2 separate regions of the Homo sapiens genome follow, and region 1 is linked to region 2. Evidence: fine-mapped expression QTL. A gene starts in region 2. The other region holds a variant in brackets. All regions are shown on one strand. Distances are from middle to middle. Region 1 overlaps ATP1A2 (ATPase Na+/K+ transporting subunit alpha 2). Region 2 holds the start of CASQ1 (calsequestrin 1).

The links.
Region 1: its variant is fine-mapped to the expression of CASQ1 in tibial nerve (GTEx, PIP above 0.99).

Annotation. Positions count from the first base shown.
Region 1 is chr1:160,143,369-160,146,282 of GRCh38, reverse strand. It overlaps ATP1A2 (ATPase Na+/K+ transporting subunit alpha 2), which reads right to left. Exons shown (of 23, transcript NM_000702.4): 23 at 2,692-2,914. Among named protein-coding and RNA genes, the nearest start is that of ATP1A4, 6.8 kb to the left of the region's middle. The variant T/C (reference allele first, on the strand shown) is at 1,730.
Region 2 is chr1:160,189,062-160,191,975 of GRCh38, reverse strand. CASQ1 (calsequestrin 1) reads right to left here and starts at 1,401. Exons shown (of 11, transcript NM_001231.5): 1 at 946-1,401. The coding sequence starts at 1,224.

The DNA.
Region 1 (2,914 bases), 46 kb after region 2:
AACTCCTGACCTCAGGTGACCCACCTACCTCGGCCTCCCAAAGTGCTAGGATTACAGGCGTGAGCCACCGCGACTGGCCCATGATTATATTTTCTGATACACTTTTTCCTCCAACATTTTTATCAGTAATAGATACTGAATTTTACTGATAGCCTCCTCAACCTTTTTTGAAATGATTATTTCATCCTTTGTCTAGTTAATGTTAGTTGTTTGTAACATTTTCCTTGTAATATGCTATCCTTGCATTCCACCATTTGGGGTAGTCAATTTATTATCTATATTAAATATAAAATTTTAACAAAATAGTACTTATCTCATAAAATAGGCTGGGCAACACAAAACACAAAATAATTTTTTATATTCCAGCACATTTTAAATAATATAAGGAAATTCTTTGAGGAATTTGCAAAAAATCCTTCATTGAATTCACTGGAGCCAAGGATATTTTTGAAAGACTCACTTTGTATTAAATGTCTTCCTTTGATATTGATCTAACCACTTTCTTCCTATTTTTTGCTGCGTTCTTAGCATTATGAATATTTAGTGACTATCTCTGATTATCTCTGATGCATGATCACATTTCCTATTCTGTAGATAAAAAGAAAATGCCATGGAAAGACTTTCTGCCTGGGTCAAAAGTTGGCCTTAGCTTCTCAGATTACATTCAATAGTAAGATTCTTCTTTTTGCTAAAATCCTCTAGCAGACCATCAAATCTCTTTGGATCTTTTTCTTTCTTTCTTTTCTTTTCTTTCTTTCTTTTTTTTTTTTTTTTCTGAGATGAAGTCTTGCTCTGTCACCCAGGCTGGAGTATAGTGGCACAATCTCGGCTCACTGCAGCCTCTGCCTCCTGGGTTCAAGCCATTCTTCTACTTCAGCCTCCTGAGTAGCTGGGATTACAGGTGTATACCCGGCTAATTTTTGTATTTTTAGTGGAAGACAGGGTTTCACCATGTTGGCCAGGATGGTCTCGAACTCCTGACCTCAAGTGATCTGCCCACCTTGGCTTCTCAAAGTGCTGGGATTACAGGCGTTAGCCACTGTGCCTGGCCTGGATCTTTTTCTTAACCCCCTACCGCATCTTTGAGATCATATCTTCTCCCTTTCTCACGGATCTGCCTTGCCCCTGCTGCTCAAATGTTAATTGTCCACAAATTCCTGGCTCCCTTGGCAGCCTCCCCAGTTCACTGAGCCATTGGGCTAGTCAGGCTCTGTCCATGCACATAGGCTTTCTGTTCTTGCAGTTGCAGAGCATGGCATGGTTAAGAGGGCAGGCCCTGGAGTCAGACTGGCCTAGGTTTGAATCCTGCTTCAGATGCTTACTACCTTTGAAACTTTGAATAATAATTTAACTTTCTGAGCACCAGTTTTCTCATCTGTAAATTGGAGATAATAATAGTCTCCATCTTACTGAATTACTGTGAGGATCCTTTCAGTCATCCAACACATATTTATTAATTGTCTAACGTGTGTCAGATGTTTTAGGTGCTAAGGATAAAGGTGTTGAACAAAAGAAATAGAGTCTCTGTCTTCATGGAACTTATACTGGAGGAGTCAGACAAACAAAAGCATAAACAGCAACAAAATACATGTATATCTTTCTAAATATTACATCTAGCTGTCTTTCTATCTAAATTTAAGGTAATAAGTATTTATGAACAAAAACGAAGAGAACAGAGAAAGAGGTTCCAGGAAGTCATTTTATTTGAGGTCCTCTGTGAGGATCTTAC[T/C]GATGTTTAAGGAGTGATCTGAATGAAGTGACAAAGCCAGGCATGTGAATAACTAGGGAAAAGTGTTCCTGGCAGAGGGACCATCAAGAATAAAGGCCCTGTGGTGGGATGAACGGAGACTATACAAATAAAATTTTGGCATAGTTATGGCACAAAATGAGCTGTGATTAAGGCTCTTATAATCACTACTAACTATAACTGTCATTAATGACACTGTTAAGAGTCATAATAAAGGGGCTGCAATATGGCTTGGGCAAGAATTGACTTCTGACCGTTATTCTGAAATCCTGGCATAGGTTGTAAGAGTTGGTGTCTTTCTCTCTCCCATTCCCAGGGCCCCCCTGGAGCAATGCACACCCACCCACCCACCCCTCCATCTCCAGCACACAAGCGTCCCCCCTACTGCTCATTACATTCTGTCCATGATGGTTTCTGATGTCTACTACTCAGGTGAATTTCAAGGATTGCATCCACTTTACCCCCACCCCTTAAAGAGAGCACCCAGGACAAAGCTCTGCATGAAGTACAGATTGTGAATTGGTGTTGACTCTTGGGCTCCTCAACCCACTATCTCCTTCCCCCATCCCATCAGATAGAGAATGGCCTGATTTTGGTCTGGAACAGAAAAAGCAGAAGTGCCCCTGAGGATCTTGTTCTTAATAGACTCACAGGCCCCTCCCTGTCCTGGACAAACTCTTGTGGCTCTTAGGGTGGGATCAGCATGAGGAAGGAGGCTCCTGCTATAGTTTCTTGTAGGTTATTTTGCAACCTAACTTCTTCCCCTCTTGCTTTCTCCACGGACATCATCTGCTCCCAGACCATTTCCCTCCCATCCCTGACACTTGCTATCTCTTTGTTGCTTTCCCTACAAGCCGAGTTCTGCCACAGCACATATTTCAATATCACGATTTAGGAGGGAGGCAAGTATAAAGTGTAGAAATCTGAATTATGGAAGAGATTTCTTTTTTTTTCATAAAGAAATGCCACTTTATTATTTTCAAGTACATAGGTAGTACCTCAAACTAATGTCTTACAAAAGGTCACCAATAAAGATCCTGTAGATGTTTCTTTAACAAATACATAAAGATTGATGATAATTAGCCCATGCACTCGCTGCTTCTAAAAGGATATTTCTAAAGTGCCTGAAAAGTATTGTTTTTGGTAGACTAAACATGCCACCTCTAG
Region 2 (2,914 bases):
CTGAGCACTCAGGATAAAAATACTCGGCTCATTAATCAGATGGCAGGTTCTAGCACCCAGCAGGGGTGCACAAAATGAGAGCCTGTGGTTCTGGTGTCTCACCCTGAAATGCTCCAAGCTCTGGACAAGCTGAGGCCAGAGAAGGGGCCACAGGAGCTTGGACAAGAAAACTCACATCCCATTTCCTAAAGGTGTGTGTGTATGAACACATTCCCAAACATAGGTTTTTTTTCTTTTCTTATGATAACTTCTTTCTCCTTTGGGCCTGAAGTCATTTTGGAGGTGAGGAGACTTTTCCCACAAAAAGAAGATTGGGGAAGACATTCTGACACCTCCTGCAACCATAAGAATTTTCCAGTGAGGGCATCCAGCTTATCCAATGGAGACAAATGGGGAATTAGGGAGGGGGAAGGAAGAGAGAGGGGACTGGGAGTCCAATGGGAGGCATGATCTCTAGGAGATATTTAAACATGGCATGCAAGTATCATAACATTTACATTTACACTCAGTTTGGATCTCTTTGGGGTGCAGCCCCTGAAGTATGTGGAGAGGACGTGTTCTGGCTAAGCAGATGGGTGGGGTAGGGGAGTGCAATATACACTGCTGTTCTCCCCTGGCCCTCCAAGTACCTCCCTTTTTCACCCTCAGTGTCCTAGCCAAACCTAAGTCAAATACTACCAGCCTCCTATAGCAGGGAGGGGAGCTCTTCCTGCAGCACCCCTGCTAAAGGTTTCCTGACGCTGATAGTACTTTTGGGTTCCTGAGACTCTGTTTCTCATTTGACTAAAGCCACATGCCACTTGCATCCTGTTGGTCAGGACAGGGTTCCTACCACACTGCCCCTCACCCCCAGATCCCATCCTCAAAGAGCTACATGGGTGTAGGATAGGGGATTCCGGAGAGGGGCTAGACATGCTCTGCAGGCCTGCAGTGCCCCCAACTCACCTCCAGGATCAGCTCCTCCATCTCAAATTGTCTTTGTGAGGCCTTGTCATCCTCGGGGGGTTCATGGTAGAGGAGTGCCAGCACCTCATACTTCTTGAACACATTCTTGTAGTTCTTTGCATTGACATTGATCACACGGTCCACACCATCGTACTCAGGGAAGTCCAGCCCTTCCTGCCCCTGTACCCCTGACTTGGGTGTCCCTAGCACCAGCAGCAACAGCAGTGCCAGCCGCAGACCCGGCACAGCTCTGGGCCCCATCCTGTCTGTAGCACTCATGGAGGTAGTGGGATCTGGGTTGGCTCTCCTGGTCCAGAAGAGGTTAGCTGGGGTAGGGAGGGGCCCCTGGGTCCCAGATTCTGAGTTAGGGGCTCAAGTGGGAGGGGGGATTGGGGAATGGCCCAGAGCAGTGGACAGAGGGCACTGCTGGGTCCTGGAGAAACTGCCGACAGAGCCAAGGGAAAAAGGGTCAGGTGGAGGAATAGGAGCAGGGGGCGGGGAGGGAACCGGAGCTGCCCCCTGAAATTGGCACCCCTCAGTCCCCACCTGGTCCTGTCTAAATATGTCTCCATGGTTGGCAGGAGAGACGGATAACCTTCTGAGGCCAGGACAGCTCCATGCGGGCCGGAATCCTCCCACCTCCTACACTTCTACCCCAGGCTCCCAGGGGCTCCTTCCCTCCCCCTCCTCCAGTGTCCAGGGCACCTCAGCCCCGGTCCCCACACTGGCCTAAGAGCTCATCGCCATATTAAGAAAGGAAAAGGAGAGATGCCGGAGCTAAAAATAAGACCAGATGAGTCGGAGGTAAATGAAGCTGGGGCTGGGGGAGGGGAGGTATAAGGGTAATTAGGGTGGGCCGAGGGTGGGGCAAGGGTAATTAGAAGTTAAATGCAGTGGAGAGGAGGAGCTAACTGGGTCAGAGGCTAAATTGATAATATAGGACAAAAGGGGGACAAATGTGGTATTGGCTCTATGTCCTAAAGCCTGGGAATCTTCTGTAGGTGAAGTCTGATTCTGATTCTTTGATACTATGTAGGAGAGTGGGGCGATAAAAGTGCAAGCCAGGCTGCAGGAAAGAGACCCCCTCCACTTTCTTTTAAAGAACCAGGACCAAGGATGAGGTCATTCTCTGAATAAAAGATGGAGCCGCGTCCAAGACTGGCAACCTGGCTCAGCTCCAGCCAGTTTCCTTTGCTTCACTCAGCACTCCTAACTTGGGAATGCAGGGAAGGACAGGGCTGGCCCAGATCCTGTCCTGTAGAGATGTGGGTTTGGGGTTTCTCTGCCTATAAAGCCCACAATGAGAAGGGGTCTGTCCTTTGGTTGCCACCTGTGTGTGCACTCCCTACCCTGATCCTATGGGACTCGGTTTTCTGGGGCACAGTGGGAAGGGAGGTTTTCCCAGGCTGCATGCTTCCAAGGAGAGTGAATAGCTACTATTTATTCCCATGTCTTTGACAAGACAAAGAGGATCAGGTATTGACACCAGGGCAAAAAAAAATTAACATTAGGCAAGCATGAAGAGGTGAACCCTGTGCCCTGAACCAAGACTGATGATTAATTCTGTGCACCCGAGATCCAAAGCAGAGATGGGCGGGTAGGGGCTTAAACTTCTGGATCCAGCTTGGGGGGTGAGGACAGAGTAGTGAGTTTAACTCTGGATACGTAGGAAGGAAGGATCCTCTTCATGGCCCTCCAGGGTTCTTACTATGCACAGGTAAACTGAGGCATGAGGGAGACCATAGAGGGTCAGATCAAAGTCACATGCTGCCACTGCACCCTGAGGTATCTCTGATTCTAGAGGGACAGTGGTGTTTTTTTTGTTTTGTTTTGCATCCAGGGAGGGTCATGTAATTATGTTAGCAGAATAACTTTTCCACATGTCTGTGTGGTGGACCTTACACAGCTGAACACGGAAGGCCACAGAAAATCTCAAAAGCATGGCAGGAGTGAGGCCAAGAGGGACAGC